Homo sapiens: one gene and its partner. The protein of the gene in region 1 purifies or fractionates together with the protein of each later gene. This does not show direct contact. Each region holds a gene or a part of one and is shown on either strand. Other genes may lie near its edges. The genes, in order: CHAMP1 and ZNF644.

Evidence for each region.
Region 2: the proteins of CHAMP1 (region 1) and ZNF644 purify together in Homo sapiens (affinity purification with mass spectrometry; 2 studies listed by BioGRID and IntAct, with this or other methods). This does not show direct contact.

The regions. Positions count from the first base shown.
Region 1 is NC_000013.11:114,315,118-114,324,612, forward strand, and holds part of CHAMP1 (chromosome alignment-maintaining phosphoprotein 1), read left to right. Parts: intron 1-5,992; 5' UTR 5,993-6,115; intron 6,116-6,945; exon of another isoform or gene 6,946-8,670; 5' UTR 8,671-8,725; coding exon 8,726-9,495. UniProt on the Homo sapiens protein: Required for proper alignment of chromosomes at metaphase and their accurate segregation during mitosis. Involved in the maintenance of spindle microtubules attachment to the kinetochore during sister chromatid biorientation.
Region 2 is NC_000001.11:90,913,235-90,923,561, forward strand, and holds the end of ZNF644 (zinc finger protein 644), read right to left. Parts: intron 4,921-10,327; coding exon 4,818-4,920; intron 3,757-4,817; coding exon 3,564-3,756; 3' UTR 2,070-3,563; downstream 1-2,069.

The DNA of each region.
Region 1 (9,495 bases):
TTGAATAGATATTTCTCCAGAGAAGAGAGACAAATGGCCAATAAGCACGTGCAGTGATGCTCAACATCACTAACCATTAAGGAAATGCAGATGAAAACCACAATGAGATACCACCTCACACCTGTTAGGGTGGCTATTAAAAAAAAGGGAAATTATGAGTGTTGGGGATGTGGAGAAATTGAAGCTCGGGTGCATTGCTGGTGGGAAAGTAGGGTGGTGCAGCAGCTATGGAAATTGGTAGTCGTTCCTCAGTTCTAGGTTTATACCCCCAAAAATTGACAGCAGAGACTCAGATACTTGTTCACAAATGTTCATCGCAGCATTATTCAAAATCCAGATGTCTATCAACATGTGGATGAAAGGCAAGCTGTGGTATATACATATAATGAATGGACCATTGTTCATCTTTAGAAAGGAATGAAATTCTGATACATGCTGCAATATAAACGAACACATTATACAGTATAAACGAGCACATTGAACACATTATGTTGAGTGAAATAAGACACAAAAAAGACATACTGTATGATTCCCCCTCAGGCACAGAATTGAGATTACCAGCACTGAAAGTGGAGAGTGGAAGTTACTGTTTCATGGGTACAGAATTTCTGTTTGTGGTGAAGAAGTTCTGGAAGTGGATAGTGGTGATGTTTGCACAACGTTTTAGTACTAAACTAACTAAATTGTGCTTTTAAAAATGATTAAATGGCAAGTTTTGTTTTTTTTTTTTTTTTTGAGACGGGAGTTTCGCTCTCGTTGCCCAGGCTGGAGTGCAATGGCCCGACCTTGGCTCACTGCAACCTCCGCCCCCTGGGTTCAAGGGATTCTTTTGCCTCATTCTCCCAAGTAGCTGGCATTACAGGCGCTTGCCACCACACCTGGCTAATTTTGTATTTTTAGTAGAGATAGGGTTTCTCCATGTTGGTCAGGCTGGTTTCGAACTCCTGACCTCAGGTGATCCACCCGCCTCGGCCTTCCAAAGTGCTGAAATTACAGGCATGAACCACCATGTCCGGCCTAAATGGCAAGTTTTTTGTTTTTATTTTTGTTTTTGTTTTTTAATGAGCCAGAGTTTCACTTTTGTTGCCTGGGCTGGAGTGCAGTTATGCGATCTTGGCCCACTGCAGCCTCCGTCTCTCGGATTTAAGCGATTCTCCTGCCTCAGCCTCCCAAGTAGCTGGGATTACAGGCGCCTGCCACCACACCCGGCTAATTTTGTATTTTTAGTAGAGACGAGGTTTCTCCACGTTGGTTAGGCTGCTCTCTGACTTTCAACCTTAGGTGATCCGCCCACCTTGGCCTCCCAAAGTGCTGGGATTACAGGCGTGAGCCTGTGGTGGCGCGCGCCTGTAGTCCCAGCTACTGGGGAGGCTGAGGCAGGAGAATCGCTTGAACCTGGGAGGTGGAGATTGCAGTGAGCCGAGATTGCGCCATTACACTCCAGCCTGGGTGACAGAGCGAGACTCCCTCTCAAAAAAAAATAAATAAATAAAAATGACTCCTTGTGTAAACTATAGACTACTTAATAAATCAGTATTAGCTTATCATTGTAGCAGATATCTCACACTAATGCAAGATGTTAATACAGGTGAAGTATCCTTCATTCGAAATGCTTGGAACCAGAAGTGCTTTGGATTTTTTTTTTTTTTTTTGGATTTTGGAATAGTTGCATTGTACTTACTGGTTAAACATCCGTAATCTGAAATCTAAAATGCTCCTTTTGGCACTCAAAAAGTTTTGGATGTTGGAGCATAATCAGATTTCAGATTTTCAGATTAGGGATGCTCAGCCTGTAGTAGGAAAAACTGGGGACAAGAAGATAGGTGGGAATTCTTGTACATTCCCTTCAGTTTTTCTTCAAACATAAAACTACTTGGAAAATTAGTTTATTAATTTCTTTCTTTTTTGGGTTGGGGGTGAGTATGGAGTCTTACTCTGTTGCCCAGCTGGAGTGCAGTGGCTCAGTCTTGGGTCACTGCAACCTCCGTCTCCCGGGTTCAAGCGATTCTCCTGCCTCAGCCTCCCAGGTAGCTGGGATTATAGGTATGCACCACCACGCCCAGCTAATTTTTGTATTTTTAGTAGAGACAGGGTTTCACCATGTTGGCTGTTGGCCAGGCTGGTCACGAACTCCTGTCCTCAAATGATCCGCCTGCCTTGGCCTCCCAAAGTGTTGGGATTACAGGTGTGAGCCACTGCGCCCGCCCAGTTTATTAATTTCTTAAAGGCCAGGCATGGTAGCTCACACCTGTAATCCCAGCACTTTGAGAGGCCAAGGCAACAAGATCTCTGGAGGCCAGGAGTTCAGGACCAGCCTGGACAACATAGTGAGACCTCATCGCTACAGAAAAAAAAAATTAGCCAGATGTGGTGGCAGGTACCTATGGTCCCAGCTACTTAGGAGGCTGAGGCGGGGGGATCTCTGGAGCCCAGGAGTATGAGGCTGCAGTGAGTTGTGATGGCGTCACTGCACCAAAACCTTGGGCAACAGAGCGAGACCCTGTCTCTAAAAAAGAAAAAAAGTCCGCTAAGATAAAGAACAATGCTAGTGTGTATAGACTAATAGAACCCATTTAGCTTTGAACATGTTCTACTTATTGAATTTTAATTTAAAAAACTATGCATCAGATGTGTTTTAAAAGATGATCAGTGGTGTTCGACTTCAAAGAAGAAATTGAATGGGAGATGGGAAATAGGTATGATACACCATCTGGCATAACATTGCATTGAAGGATACTGGGTGATAGACTGGCAGAGCACCAATGATTAGAATTTAGGTTTTTTAGAGACGAGATGTAATCTGTCTCAAAGACAAAAAGAAATTTTTGTTAATCTGGACAATTCTGAGTTAATTTTTAGTTAGGGTTAGGAGTTCTTAAATTTAGGAAGAAATTTTGCTAGAACCTAAAAGCTGGAAGGACGCCCAGCTCTCTAGGCTTTGCCTAAAAGTTGAATTCTGGGACTAAATTCTGTAACATCTTCGTGGATCGTTCTGCTACTGTGGGAAAGACAGCATTTTGTTACAGCAGAGACCAGAATTGAGAAAACCAGAATAAAAAAACTGTTCCCTCTGACCTCAGTGTTGTGATCTTTGACAGGTCACTTCTTTCCCTCAGCATCAGTCTTTTCAGTTATAAAATGAAGAGGTTGAACTCAAGACCTCTGAAGATCCTTCTAGTCCTATGCTGATCATCATTTTTTTTTTTTTTTGGTTTTCTTTTTTGAGACAGGGTCTCACTCTGTCATCTAGGCTGGAGTGTAATGGTGCAGTCTTGGTTCACTGCAACTCCTGCCTCTCAGGCTCAGGCGATTTCTCTTGCCTCAGGCTCCCGAGTAGCTGGGACTATAGGTGCATTCTGCTGCACCCGGCTAATTTTTGTATGTTTTGTAGAGACGGGGTTTCGCCGTGTTGCCCAGGGTGTTCTTGAACCCCTGAGCTCAAGGGATCCACCTGCCTCAGCCTTCCAGAGTGCTGGGATTACAGGCCTGAGCCACCACACCCGGCCTGATCATCAGATTCTAATTATGGAGTACTCCTACCTGACAAAGGAACTCGTTCTAGTTCATGATAGAGTAGATTGTAAACTGTGTTAAGCCACAATTCTTTTCCTGCTAGCTTCTGATTGTCACTTCTAGGATAGCTCATATATTATCTATAATTCTTCCCCTTTTGAAGTTAAATGTCTTTATTTGTAAATGACTTTTTTTTTTTTAAAGGGCCATCTGCCATCCTGGTTGCCTTTTTTTTTTTTTTTTTTTTTTTTTTTTTAATGTTCCCTAGTTTGTTAGAGACTCTCTTAAAGTGTCCTTCCTGCCCAGAGCTGGGGACAGTGATCCACTGGAATAGTGTACTCTGCCCAGTGCAGAATATGGGATATAGTTCTCTATAGTCCTGTATTTATGCACTTGATATGTGGATTCTAAGTGTTTGTTTCATCTTGTTTATTTTGGACTATTGTACAGGCTTTAAAAGATCTTACTAAATTCCACTGTATTAGTTTGTGTATATCTACAAAGAACCTGGACAGATAGCAGAACTTTATTCTCTCATCAGATACTGATCATTTGTCTGATTTGGGCAAGCTGTTTAATGTCAAGCTTGAGTTTCCTTAACTATAAATTGAAGTTTTAAAGTAGATGATCCCTGAGGTCTTTTCCTACCCTCAAATCCTATGACTTTGAGACTAGATGGTAACTTAGGTTTCCTCTAGTTTTAAAATCCTGTGAGTCTAAGATTGAGAGAATGTTAGGATTGAACAGAGCACATACTGTGTGTCAGGGATGTGCAACGGTTCCAGAGGTGAATAAAGGGATAATAGTCCCTCCTCTCCAGGAGCTGGCATCCTGTTTTTGGTATCAGGCTGTAGTGCCAGAGGGTGACATGTACAGCTGGGGCTTCTAGGAAGATTGGGAAGAAGTGGGGAATTGACCAGTACAGTTGACTCATGAATAACAGAGGTTAGAACTTCAACCAAATGCCAATAAAAAAGAGCGTTTACAGAATGTGAAACATTTATATGGAGGGCAGATGTTTCATATATGGGAATTCCACAAGGCTGACTGTAGGACCTGAGTATGTGTGGATTTTGGCATATGGGGGAAGTCCTGGAACCAGGTCCCTGTGTTTACAGAAAGACAGCTGACTTAAAAAGCTGTCCTGCCTGAAGGATGAAGGAGTTTGCCTGATGGCCGGGTGGCAAGACAGGGAGTGTAAAGGAGAGGAAATAGTTTATACAAATGCACAGACGCTGGAATAGTCAGGGAGTTACATGTGGGCCAGTATTTTGAGAATGCAGTCTGGTCATGGGCCAGACTGTGAAGAGCTTTATATGCCATATTCAAATTGTATACTGTAGGTGTCTTAGTTGACTTGGAGGACATGTGAACAGGCAGATCACATTAGGCTTCTGTTTGGAAGACAGGTTTGGTAGCTGTACGATGAATGGGTTGGAAGAAAAGGAGACTAGTGGCAGGGAGTTCAGATGTCAGAATTAAAGCAGTGATAGGGGTAGGGGATAGAGAAGGGGTAGATGAATGTGCTGGAGCTAATCAGAAGCATAATATGAGCTGTTGTGTAGCTTGTGCATGGCCAGTTTATCACATTCTGTTCCTGTCAGCAGACTCACCCACACCATGATGCTTTATCTTTGAAATGCATGCAGGAAGAGAAGAGGGCAGAGCAATCACTGAAGCAGGTCCATGTGTTCTTCCTTGGGGTCAGGACACTGCCATCCTGCTCCTCCCAGAGTCCTTTCTTTTTGTGCCTCTTGGTCCTCTTTGTTGTGGTGTCCCTTCCTCCACTGCCTGTTAATTTGGCACTCTGCTGTGTAATATCAATAATTGACAAAAGTCAGCCATTGTTATAGTCAGTAGTCACACCAGCAGTCTTCTGAGTGCTTATCAGAGAAGTGAAGTTAGGTGGTGGGTTTGAGAAGGATTTGATTACACACACGGGCATAATTCCATAGTGGATCATTAAAGAGAAAGTAGACAAGGATGGTGTCAGGAGTGGTATCTACTGTAGTCTTTGGTGTCATTTCATAAAAGTAAGTGTTCGGGCTGGGCGCGGTGGCTCACACCTGTAATCCCAGCACTTTGGGAGGCCGAGGCGGGCGGATCACGAGGTCAGGAGATCGAGACCATCCTGGCTAACACGGTGAAACCCCGTCTCTACTAAAAATACAAAAAACTAGCCGGGCGTGGTGGCGGGCGCCTGTAGTCCCAGCTACTCAGGAGGCTGAGGCAGGAGAATGGCATGAACCCTGGAGGCGGAGCTTGCAGTGAGCCGAGATCGCGCCACTGCACTCCAGCCTGGGCGACAGAGCAAGACTCTGTCTCAAAAAAAAAAAAAGTAAGCAGGCTTAGTGGACTGGACTCCTCTCACTGTTAGGGCAGGATGGTGAGAGAAATACACAGAATTCCATTACAGGGGGCACACACGATCACAGATATAGTTTTGATTACTTTTCTTTTTTTTTTTTTTTTTTTCCAGGTTCAACTTCTCATCTTTGTTCTTCTTCATATACTATAGGCTGTTTGCTGTGGTTTAGTCAAAAAGCCATGTAGAATGCCTGCCTTTTGAAGACCACTTTTAAGGTGTCTAGTAAGACAGCAGGTAAGTCTAGTAGGGAAAGCATGCTTAGGAGAATATTTTATGAGGAGAAAATTAAAAAAAAATACCTGGAGTTCTTGAGGAAAATCTCTAAAAGTGTACACGCCCTTATGGATATAATGTGTGTTGTGTGCTAGATATACATAATTTGGGATATGAGAAGTGAATTCTGTAGCATTCTTTGTAGATTTAAGTATGAGATTGGCCTGAAGAGCTGGTGGTAGGCAGCGGGAAGAGGAGGGATGGCTGGGAGGAATGGGGAATGGTAGGTGAGTCAGACTCAAACCCAGCACACCTGAGCTCTTAGTCTCTGTTGTAATTACAATATGTAATATAGTGCTCTTTAATATTAGCTTGGCTGTTCATTATTGCCAGTTGGGCTGTTCATTATTGCCTCATGGGATTATTGAGACATATCCTACGTTTTCCCCTAAAGTCTTCTAGTTTTATTTAACAATGGGCTCTGAGACGGATGGTTAACCCATTATTTTTCCATGCATTCAATTACGTTTGTAAGTTAAAGATCATTTTCAGAGATTTTTCATCAGTACGGAATTATTTATTTTTCTTTTGTTACAGTCCTGGCCCCAAAACAGTTTTCTAAAATACAGGATAACTGCTGGGCAACTCAGAAAGAGTAAATAGTTTCCGAAGAAAAGTATTTGTTTCCTCAAGTATCTGTCACCTTTTTAGCTTTAGATCAAAAAATAAAAAAGGCAAATGATATACCTTGGATAAAAGTGTTAGGAAGCAGTATTGCCAGTGAGAACATCTTTAAAAACAAATTATCAAAGTTAGAAATGTTAATTTTTTTTTTTTTTTTTTTTTTTGAGATGGAGTCTTGCTCTGTCACCAGGCTGGAATGCAGCGGCATGATCTCAGCTCTCTGCAACCTCCGACTTCTGGTCCAAGCGATTGGCCTGCCTCAGCCTCCCAAGTAGCTGGGACTACAGGCACACGCCACCACGCCTGGCTAATTTTTGTATTTTTAGTAGAGATGGGGTTTCACCATGTTGGCCATGATGGTCTTGATCTCCCGACCTCGTGATCTGCCTGCCCGGCCTCCCAAAGTGCTGAGATTACAGGCATGAGCCACTGCGCCCAGCCTATACATTTTTTTAAAATAATGGTTTTGTAATTAATAAAGGGAGAGCCTGCATTTCTAATCTGTACTGTTCTTTGAGGAGGAGTAAATATCATTACCGTCAATAAGGGAAGGTGTTCAGTCTTTCTCATTAAAGAGAAGCACATTAACACAATAGTGAAATACTAGCTTTCACCTAGGTTGTAGCAAGGATTAGGAATTTATAGGAAATTGTCTCTCATATATACACGTTGTTATGCAGTAATAGAAGTTTTTGAGAGTTTGGTAAAATGTATCAATTTTACACACAAATGGCCAAGTAATCCATTGCTAGGAATTTTCCCTGCAGAAATACCCTCACATGCACAGATAAGTACAGGGAAAGTCAGTGCTTATTCCATATGTAAAAATGTCTTAGAGATAAATTCTAAATGAGAGTAAGTTGCCAGATAATATGTTTAATATCCCATTTGTGTAAAGCATGTGTGTTGATCAATATATGCTTAGGACATTTCTTCCAGGACACATGAGTACACTGGCTACCCCTAGGGACTGACACTCTGTATCTCGTACTGTGTGAATGTGTTTTTAACTGTGAGCTTCTATTCCCTTTACTACTTAAGAAGACTGGTTTACAATTTTTTTAAATTCATGTTTTCCGGCAACTGTGTTCCAGCTGCTGGGGTGTCCTCTGATTTGCCCTTTGGTTGGTATGCGCCTTCACATCATTCAGGATCTCTGCTGGAATGTCCCATGCATAGAGGTCTTTTCCAACGGCCTCTACATCACTCTCCACCTTATCTTTCCAACTCATGAACGCCATATTGCAAAGCACTGCTTTAAGCCTAAGTGCCTAGAACATTGTAGGACACAAAGTTATTTATTTATTAAATGAATTAATAGAATACTATATTGGGATAGATTAAACATTACAAAATATGTTGACATGAAATCAAGCCAGCATCATGTTTTAAAGTCATCTTTTTATAGCTAGATTTAATTTATTAAGTGCTTTCTGCAAAAGTTTTAGTCTCTTGTTCATCCTTAAATAGCCAAGATTTAATTTTGATATTCACTCATCTTTGTGTGCTGAGGACTTTTGTACTCGGAGTTTGAGAGTCAAAGTATAAAGCACATGCAATAGCTAATTCTAGAGTCAGGCTCACATCACTGATAGTCCTATAGCCTGGACCAGAGAAAGTCAGGTAACTTCTCTGAACCTGTTTCTTCATCTGTAAGTGAAAATAATAGTTGAGTCATATCATTAGGATTAAATGAGATGATGTATGTGAAACTCCTAGCAGAGTGCCTGGGACTGTTCTATATCTCCTTTTTCTTCAAATTCTCCCTAGAGATACTATCAAATAAAGCACGCACTGTTCTAGACTTAAAATTATGCAGTTATAGAATGGACTGACAGCATTTTATTCAGAATTACAGTTCATGAAAATAATTTATTCCTACTTTATTGCAGCAGTATTGAAAGTTTTTAAAGAATATAACCGTGTGTGTTGGTAACAGACAGAAGAATGGAAGCATTCCAGGAACTTCGTAAACCATCAGCACGTTTGGAGTGTGACCATTGCAGTTTCAGAGGCACAGACTATGAAAATGTACAAATCCATATGGGTACCATCCATCCAGAATTTTGTGATGAAATGGATGCTGGTGGGCTAGGCAAAATGATATTTTACCAGAAAAGTGCAAAGTTATTTCACTGCCATAAATGCTTCTTCACCAGCAAGATGTACTCTAATGTATACTATCACATCACATCCAAACATGCATCCCCAGACAAATGGAATGATAAACCAAAAAATCAGTTGAACAAAGAAACAGATCCTGTGAAAAGCCCTCCTCTTCCTGAACACCAGAAAATACCCTGCAATTCAGCAGAACCAAAATCCATACCTGCCCTTTCAATGGAAACACAGAAACTTGGTTCAGTTTTGTCTCCAGAATCGCCAAAACCTACTCCTCTTACTCCCCTGGAGCCTCAGAAACCTGGCTCTGTTGTTTCTCCTGAGCTACAGACACCTCTTCCTTCTCCTGAGCCTTCAAAACCTGCCTCTGTTTCTTCTCCTGAACCTCCAAAATCAGTCCCTGTTTGTGAGTCTCAGAAACTTGCCCCTGTTCCTTCTCCAGAACCACAGAAACCTGCCCCTGTATCTCCTGAGTCAGTAAAGGCTACTCTTAGTAATCCCAAACCCCAGAAGCAGTCTCATTTCCCGGAAACATTGGGGCCACCTTCAGCCTCATCTCCAGAGTCACCAGTTCTAGCTGCTTCCCCAGAACCTTG
Region 2 (10,327 bases), on another chromosome or scaffold:
AAAGTGCTGGGATTACAGGCGTGAGCTACTGTGCCTGGTCTATTACATTTTCTTAGTGAGGAAAAACCCAGAGTGATCCTTTGGACTTTGTATTCTAATTGGACAGTCCTTGAGAAGTTATGTATATGTCCTTTAAAAAAGTTTGTCTAGTAAATTACTGAGAAATCATTATCTCCCCAACCCATAATTAAATAAGTAAAATCTAAAATACAGATATGAGTTATGCCACAGTTCTAATATACTCTAAAGAAGTATAGTGGAAAATAATACATAGAAGTTAACCTTTTTGTCTTGAAGCCATTAAATAAATCAACACTGCAGCCTGGAATTTTTTTTTTTTTTTGAGACGGAGTCTTGCTCTGTCACCCAGGCTGTAGTGCAGTGGCACCATCTTGGCTCACTGCAAGCTCCACCTCCCAGGTTCATGCCATTCTCCTGCCTCAGCCTCCCCAGCAGCTGGGACTAGAGGCGCACGCAGCAACGCCTGCTAATTTTTTTGTATTTTTAGTAGAGACGGGGTTTCACTGTGTTAGCCAGGATGGTCTCGATCTCCCGACTTCGCGATCCGCCCGCCTCGGCCTCCCAAAGTGCTGGGATTACAGGCGTGAGCCACTGCGCCTGGCCCAGACTGGAATTTTTTAAAGCCCTAATTTAGCATTAGAAGCTTGCATATCTCAGGCAATGGTAAAAGAATTAAAAGAAAATTAGTCAATACTGAATGATAAATCAGGCCATATGCTGACATAAAAATCTATCATGTAAATTGAGACAATATTTTATACTTTTCTTCTAGTGGGAACCAAATGAAAACATATTATTAATTTTCTAGTTGCCAAATAAAAGACGAATTTTGAATGCTTCCTAAAGAATTCTTTAAATTTTGTAACCCAAATATCTTTACTATGAAAAATGCTCTTTGCTTAATTTACTTTTCAGGAGTCACTCTAGTCTACTGTTTCTGATGTGAAATATTTTATTCTGATGACTGAATTCTTTATATAACTAGAAGGAGAAATAATTGTTTACATATAGTTCAACATATTTTAAAATTAAATGTAGTTTTGATTCCGAAACTTGTGGTCAAACTAATTCTTCTACTTGTATTCACACATGTTGATATTTGGCCTGATAAGACAAAATCATAGAAGTGTAAGAATTAGGAGGCCAGGTGTGGTGGCTCATGCCTGTAATCTCAACACTTTGAGAGGCGGAGGCGGAAGGATCTCTTGAGCCCAGGAGTTCAAGCACAGCCTGGGCAACATGGTAAAACTCTGTCTCTACGAAAAATACAAAAACTAGCCAAGAGTGATGACATGTGCTTTTAATTCCAGCTACTTGGGAGGCTGAAGTGGGAGGATCACTTGAGTCCTGAGAGGTTGAGTCTGCAGTGAGATATGATCACACCATTGCACTCCAGCCTGGGTGACAGAGTAAAACTCTGTCTTTAAAGAAAAAAAAAAAGAATTAGAGTGGAAAGGGGCTCTAGTGATTACTAGCCTTCCCACAAGATTCCTATGATTTTTGTTTGTTTGTTTGGTTTTTACTTCTGGACTCCACTTGCTATGTAGTATGTCTTCCAATTTAAAAATATATATTCAAAGACATATAACTATCAACGAAACTTGTTCAGTAAGAGATAACCAATATATACAGACTTGGTATATTTTCAGTCAAAAGTAAAGAAATGGGATGTTTTAGTTAGTTTTGTCACTATAGACAAATACATAGTTTTTATCGGGACTTTTGTAAAATTGAAAATAACTTACAAGTACTATTCCCTTATCTATTAACCTAAGGATCAGGAGACCCTTGGTTGGGAATGATCCAACTAGTCCAACCTTCTAATTTTGCATATAAGATGGCTCTGAATTTAGAGGTTTGATTAATCATGAAAGGGGGAAAATGATTTTTCTCACATACATTATATTGACCAATGAGGTGATTCTAGAAAAACTATGCTCTGTGATCCAAGTAACCTGGCAAGGATAAACAATTTAAATCCAATGAAACACAACCTGAAGTGAACTATTACCACCAATGATAAAAATAAGAAATGTTTCACATTTTAATTTTCTTTAAACCTTTTTTTATTTAGAGATTTTTCTGGTAAGGAGATATACCATAGGAAAGCAATTTCACTGGCAGTGAGGTATGTATATACTCTACCAAAATACTCCTTATTTTAACTGTTTTTAACTTTATTTACATACGAAGCAAAGAATCAATGCATATCCTTGGTTCAACTATAGTATTAGCCATACTACATGAAATAAAATGGTGCTTGCATACAAAAACTTGTTGTTTGTAAAGGAATCTGATTTCAGATTAAAATACCTAATTGTTTTTGGAAAAAATTTTTAAAAAGAATCACAATTTATCATGACCAAGACACCTGCACCATATTTTCCATTCCTCACAGCACATTTATTTCAGTAATTCTGTTATGTCGGTTCTTAGCATGAGCATAGTGTTACACGATTTTCGTACATATAATCACATCCAAAACAAGTTCTAAAATTTAAATTGTAAACATTCTCATATGTAGAAATATTTTAATTGGTGTATTAAGTTTTGCTAACTGATCAAATTTGGAAGATAATATAAATGAGAACGTCTATTCTAAACTGTGTAGTGAGCATTGTTTATTAATTACATTTCTACAATGTTAAATAAAGTAAGAGGCAAACCTGTCCTGTAAGCATGTCAAATTTTAGGTAAAACATTAAAAAGAAACAAACCTGTTAACAAAAGAATGTCTTGCAATAAAGAACATTAGATTTTTAAAATCTATTATGATACAAAAATGTAAAGGGTAAATAGCATCTTTGTTGACAAAGTAGGAGGTAGCATGGATGCACCACTTTATTGTCTGAGAAATGCAACTGGAGTAAAGAATATTTCCTTACCACAAATAATTTCCAGAACTATGTACATATTTCTTTTAGAAATACTTGTTTAAACAAATCTCCCTCCACTTTTTAGTATAAAAAAAACCGTTCCATGTGATTTTAAAAAAAACACTTACACATCTAGATAGAATAGTACTCTGCCCTATTTGAGTGAACAGTCTCAAACTATGAAGTACATGATATTTAATGCCCTAATTTGAGTAAATTTAGTCAGCGGTTCTTGGTATTATACAAAACACTAAATACATACAAACAAAATATAATATCTTATTTTTCTATGCAAGTCTTGTGGGGAATAAACAGAGCCTTGATTCTGGTAACACTGCAAAAAACATAATTGTCCAATAAGTCTGTCTATAAGTATCCATGTGCAACAGTTTATTAATGGCTGCTTACATGTACTGCTCTTTTACTGAGTGAACACAGTTAACCAACAAAACTTCATAAACCTTAAAAACACATCTTCCACCCTATATAAAATATATAGACTACTTACTGTTTTAAGTATTCAATTTGCTCTGATGTCACTGTAATTCACTTTCCCCCCATTTTCCTGCTTTAGTATTTATAAACAGATAATTTAATGTGGCTTAAAAAAAAAGAATTTCAAATTTACATCCAATTCAAACTGGCTATTTAAAAGGTTTCCTGGTTCTATGAAGCTGCTTCGGCCATTAGTAGAGAAAATGAAGTTTCTGTAATGGAGGCAGGCTTTTTAAGTAGTGACGTGACTTCCACCATGCCAGCTCCAGTCCGTGGAAGATTAGCGTTTACAATATGTCGTTGTAAGTGCTTAATCCAGTCTTCCTGAACAGACAAGGGTCCTCGAAAGACTAGGCCACAAAACCTACAGAAAGATAACAATTCTCTTAACATGACCAATTCTCTTTCTTTAAAACTAATTCACACAAAATCCTAAAACATAAGGAATAAACTTTATCATATTTTAAAGACAGCAATTGATAAAGTTTCTAAAGTCAAATGATTTAATAAAACATCAAAACTCCCAATTCATATGTTTATTAACAGCTATAATAAACTCCAGTAATCTTTGTATAGGTGGGAGCATTATTATTTTAAAATTAACATCTACACATCTTAATTCACTTGAAACAACAACTATTACTCCAAAATATGTCATTCTTTAGAAAAGACCCTTCCCCAGTTTAGCATTCCTTAAATGGCATTGTGTCTATGTTTCTTCATGTGTGTTGTGTGTGAGTGTGAGTACGGAAGAAGGCGTGACTATGAGGGGAGAGAAAATGTGTTCCCAATAAGCGAGAACTCAAGACAACAAAACATCAAACCAAACAAAATTAAACCATACAAACCAAATAAACACAAGGAAAGCCAGTTTTTTTTTCTTTTTTCTGAGACAGAGTCTTGCTCTGTCGCTCAGGCTGGAGTGCAGTGGCACGATCTCGGCCCACTGCAACCTCTGCCTCCTGGGCTCAAGCAATTCTCCTGCCTCAGCCTCCCAAGTAGCTGGGATTACAGGCACCCGCTACAAAGCCTGGCTAATTTTGGTATTTTTAGTAGACACGAGGTTTCATCATGTTGGCCAGGCTGCTCTTGAACTCCTGGCCTCAAGTGATCCACCCATCTTGGCCACCCAAAGTGCTGGAATTACAGGCATGAGCCACCACACCTGGCCAAGCTACTTTAATAAATCACAGTATAATAGATTTACATTACTATTGGCTAATGTAAAAAACTTGATTCATTAGTTGTTGAAGTACGGATATTGTGAGCTGAATTAAGATTTTAAGCCTATCTCCAAAAGTTCATTTATAACTTGATTGTTGAGAATGCACTCTGCCACAAATTAAAAATCCCAAATGAAATAGCTAATATGTTTCAAAGCAAAGTATGAAGAAACTGATCAGATTTGGCAATATAGGCATATACCTGCATCGGAGAATGTAAACCTCGTCAGCACCATGAGGTAATGTTAGCATTTTCTTCTTGCTTCCAGATCTTGACCTTGATTTCTTTTGCTTACAATCTAAGGCTAAAAAGGGGAAGAGAAAGACTTAACATTCCTTATATATTTCAAAATATACATACACACATATTTTTCTAGAGAGGTCAGACAGACCATCTAAATCAGTTAGAAAAAGTCCGCATTCATTTCCCTATTCCCTGAAGCATGCATTCAACTTGCTGATTCTGTAATAGCAGTAATATTATCTGTACTGTACAGCGGTATTATCTGTACTGAAGAATACTATCTGTATTCTTCCTATACTGCCTTTTCAAATAATGCTTTACCACACCAAACTAGAACTGAGAAAATGTAACTAAATAACTTGAAAGTACTAAATTGGTCAATTATTACAATAATGGTAATCTTTACTTTTATAATCATACATAATTTTAATATCTGGTTTAATCTTATTTCCAGAAAAGTAGAACCTTTTATTTGAGATCATTAAATTAAGTTTGCATTTGATTACTGCTCCATTAAGTAGGTCTTCTATACTTGGAAAACTTCGTAAGGGAATATGGATAATGTAATTAAAAGCTCAAGGAAAAATCAATTTTCATAGTGATTCACCATGAATTTTATAATAAATAGCTCTTAAAATTGTATGCTGGCCCTACATTTGAAAGGACAAAAAAAGCTCAACTTTCATTTTTGAACTTAATTTGTATTGCATATACAATAATCAATTATGCAATCATATAAGTTTTATTTTACTAGAAAATAAATATAAATCCATATTATCTCACGTAAGTTTACAATTGGATCTGATGTTTAATGCTAACTATTCTTTACATATTTTTCATTTTACATTTTCTCCAACTGCTTATTTTAAAATGTGATTTGAAAAGGTAAAAAAAAAAATTAAAATAGACCAAAATTTTATGTGAACTGTTCTTGAAATTTTTCCATTAATTGACTTTTCCTTTATTTATTCTAAAACAACCTGATTTTAAAAAGAAAAAAAGGTATTTTTTATAGGTAGCAATAGATAGCACATAACATTTTATAGGTCTTTGAATACAGCTACACCATTTCTTTGGACAAAGGGATGATAGCAATCCAGGGTGCTGCTGGTCAATTAGCAGGAAGAGAAGGTAAGAATTTATCTGTAGGGATCCAAGGGGGGAGGGATACAAATGTAACAGAAGAGTTACCCAAATGGCTTTTCTTCCATTATCCTGCCATGTGAAAAATTCCCTGGAAAAATTCTAAGTAAGAGAGAAGGAACTGGCTGTTCAATGACTCTGTGAAACGAATTGTTCAAAGTCCAGATTCCAAAAGAATAGATGCTACTATTACAAAACCAGTAAACATAGTTCCTTAGTCAAATGGCAATGATAACAGAAATGTCATATAGAAAATTCAAAACCACAAGAAACCTAAATCTCATTGAAGCCACTGGTTTCAGCTTCCTGTCACCTGCCTATTCAAAAGTAAAATCTAGGACACAGTCTTTTTCTGTTTATCCTTAGAAGAAGAGTCTAATAAGTAAAGAACTACTAGAAGTCAAGTTAGGTATTAAAGAATGGGTAATTCAAAGCTAAACAACCAAACTCTGGAATAGAAAAATCTTATAAGGATCTTATTAGTTATCTCAGTCAAGAGCCTCGCATGTAGTAGGAACTCAACAAATACTTCTGGAGTAAAAATAAAGCAAAACTCAGTAATTTAACCATTGATATTTAGACAGCCTATGAATGAAAATGTTTTACTCCTATTTAATACAGGTAATATTCCTGTACAACATTGTGCATCATTTGTTTAAATATGTTGCTGCAGTCACACATACTTCATTATCCTAGATATAAATCACTGACCAGCCAGCTTATGTACAGAAACTAGGTTATTCACAACAACTACAAGAGTGAAATACCTTATGCTTTGTACCCAGTAGGAAAAACCTTTTTCCTAATCGCTTTGGTGAGCAATCTGAATTTAAGTGGGTTATGAGTGATTCATACACTAGAAATAGAGTTCAGGGAACTCAAAGAGTAAGTGCTACTAGATGTCAGCTATTCTTTCCATCTGTAAAGATGGATCCTTGTCTGTGTTAGGCAGAATAGAGCAGGCATTTGGTGTATCATAAGATTACAGGTAGAATCTTACTTTGATGAGCTTGCTGGTTGTCAAAATTGCCACACTGTATTCAAACTCCTTTTAAAATGCAAATAAATTACTGTAGGATACAAATAGAATACATTATAACAACCCTTAAAAATTTGTTCACAGAATGTTAATGTTAGGGGTGTAAAGCAAATTGAGGAAGAAGGGCAGGAGGATGGTAGGGAAATATGCAAAAGAACATTTTATCAGTTACAAAAGCATTTAAATTTACATGTTGTTAATATTTTAAAAATGGAACTGGAAATGTTTATTCTAAAATACAGAAATATTTTTGGCTTTTTCTTTAATAGGGAAAAAAGAATTATTTTATGGCTTTTGATGCTTTATGGACTGTGGAAACTCTTAAGTTTAGGCTGTTTTATGAATGATCAGATCTAAACTTGAAATGAGAATGCCATCATTTTTGTAGCAATGAGTATTTGAAGGTATTATAACCTTGGAAAGCAGGACAACTCTGCCAGCTTATGACTGATCAATCATCTCTAGAACCCAGGGCTCCAAAGTTAAGGTTACAGAATCTCATGCACTGAGAATCCCTAGAAACTTATTCACAAAGTTAAAATATTAAAAATCTGGGAACTTTGGAAATTGAAATCTAAATGCCTCAGTGTTTTAATATCTTCATCAATTCTAGATTTATTATCTCCTGAAATGTTATATTTTTGAGCAGGTGAAACATGAACATATTTTACAATAGTTTTTCTAATGCCAATATCCAAACCCACTCCTGTGATACTGCCCATACCTTTGGGAAAATCTGTTTAAAATTGAGTATTTAACATATTAAAACTGCACAAAAAGGGGACATCTATATAGGATCCTCTACATAAAAGGATGATTTACACAGAAAATTTCAATAAATGAAAAGGATGAGGTAGAAACATGTCTGTTATACCAATATTCTCACTTAAGAGATTTTATTATATCTAGAGGGAAAAGTAGTTTTGTTCTGGACTGTACCAGGAGCCACTAGAACATTAAATACAGATCACTAACACATTCAGTTTTAATATAATGCAGCTCATCAGTATCTGTGATAAACAGCCAAAGCTTTAACAGAGTTGTTTATATGAATAATCTGCCAAATAGATAACTGTTACACAAAGCCTTTTTTTGTAATAGGATTTTATTTGCACTTGTTAGTGACCAAAAAACTCCAAGGAACTTAAAAACAAAAAACCCACACACTCTTTTCTCTTTACAAAGTATTTTAAATCTAACATTGTTTCTATACTTTAAATATATTAAAAAATTATTTTTAGAAAGTATTAATTTTCTTCTCAAGCATAAGCTTCTATAGAAAGAAACAAATCCAGTCATCCAAACCTTCCTAAGATTACTATTCGGTGGGCAGAAACTGTTTAAGTGATCAATTTCAACCAAAAGACTGTTATCTTTCAAGTTACCTGATTTATAAAAGATCTAAATTGCTACTGAGAATATTTTACTCATACGGAGAATAAATTGAGCTGTAAGGTCAAATGCAAAAAAAAAAAATAGAATATACCTTTCAGTAAGATATTTGTCTTGGTCAAATACAAATATGAAAGAGAAATACAATAAACTCATGAGTCCTCAAAAAGAACACCACACTGCTATGCTATGAATACGACGACCAATGACCATGACGACAACAACATGCCAAAGCACTAAACCAGATTGGTGCAAAGCAAATAAATAGATAACACAACACATAAAAATTCAAGTCTGTTTTCTGAGCCATTATTTAGTTTTATACAAAGAAGATTAAGAATTTACTTTTGACTTTGACATTAAAATCTTTTGCTCTTTCCACCTTTCTGCCCATTTTATACAATAATTGCTTCAATGAGTTTCATTTTCTTTTTCCTTCACGATATAAATGACCCAAGAGAATGAGATTTCATAAAAACATCTGGAACTTCTTTGATAAAGCACACCATAACTAAATTAACATTCGCCACCGAAGTATTTTTATTTGTAATCATTCTCACCTGCCCAATAACTTAAAAGTCTTGTTTAATCCATTTCTTTTCTAATTGGTTGCTGGTATCTCTAGGACAAAGTGAAACAACTGGGGTATCTATACCCAAAGTAAGAGGCACAGTATACCCCTACGAGAGGGAAGAAAATTTCTTCTCTAAGTGGTTGGCCTGTGTTAAGTTTGGTGGACAATATTAGCTATGAGCTCATTCAGAACTACAGTAGGAATAAACATGACACGAACAGGTAAATCATCATTCTATCACTATTAAAAAGTTGGTGCTGGAGGTCGTGCTGGCAGTGGTGAGGTGGGAAGAGGATGCACACATGCCAAAGGATACACAAGTGTAAGAAAAATAAACTCAACTCTTTTTTTTAAACCTTTATTTTAACTTCAGGGGTACACGTGCAGGTTTGTTATATAGGTAAATTGTCACGGGAGTTGGTGTACAGACTATTTCATCACCCAGGCAATAAGCACAGTACCTGATAGGTAGTTTTTTTTATTATCTCCCTCCTCCTACCCTCCACCCTTAAGGTAGGCCCCAGTCTGTTGCTCCCTTCTTTGTGTCCATGTGTTCTCGTTGTTTAGCCCCTACTTATAAGTGAAAACATTCAGTATTGGTTTTCTGTTCCTGTGTTAGTAATAAATTCAATTATAACTGTTGTCACTAATCCTTCAAGGTTCATAAGCCCCAAGCATATAAAAAGACTGCAAATATAATTTTCTTTCCTTTGGCCTCAAATGAAAAAGAATCAGGGCCTTTTTTTAGAAAACAACAACAACAACAAAAACATGCTAGCTTGTGTAAAACAGGAATGGGGTAGAGAAAGCCAATTGCTGAGAAGCCAAAGTTTCATTTATTCAGCTTTTATCTTTCTTTCTGTACAAAGTGCCTAGGAGACCAGCTTCATGGGTGTCCAACTTACACAGTCACATAGGGAGAGCCCCACACTCAGTTTAATGCTCTACTGTTGCAGCCTTGAAACTATTAATTTTTGAACGAGGTCTACCACATAACTCATTTTGCATTGGACTTTGCAAATAGCAGCCCTGGGACCTGAGTATCTACTATCATAAATGAGAAAGGCTGCATTCAGTTCCACCCCTCAATCTCTCGGCCCATTCAAAAAAGGAAAAAAAAAGGCTGAGAAAAATTGTTAAATCCCCACTCTACACAGTATTAAAATTGAAAAGGACTCCCCTACTCCTATCAACATCAGTTCTTTGCTCCTAGCTATACCACTTCATTATTCCCAAGATGAGTAGTTTACATTATAAAAAGCAATGTTTCCCTTACAGTCAGGCATGAAGTATAAAGATACACATTTGGTCACCTCAAAA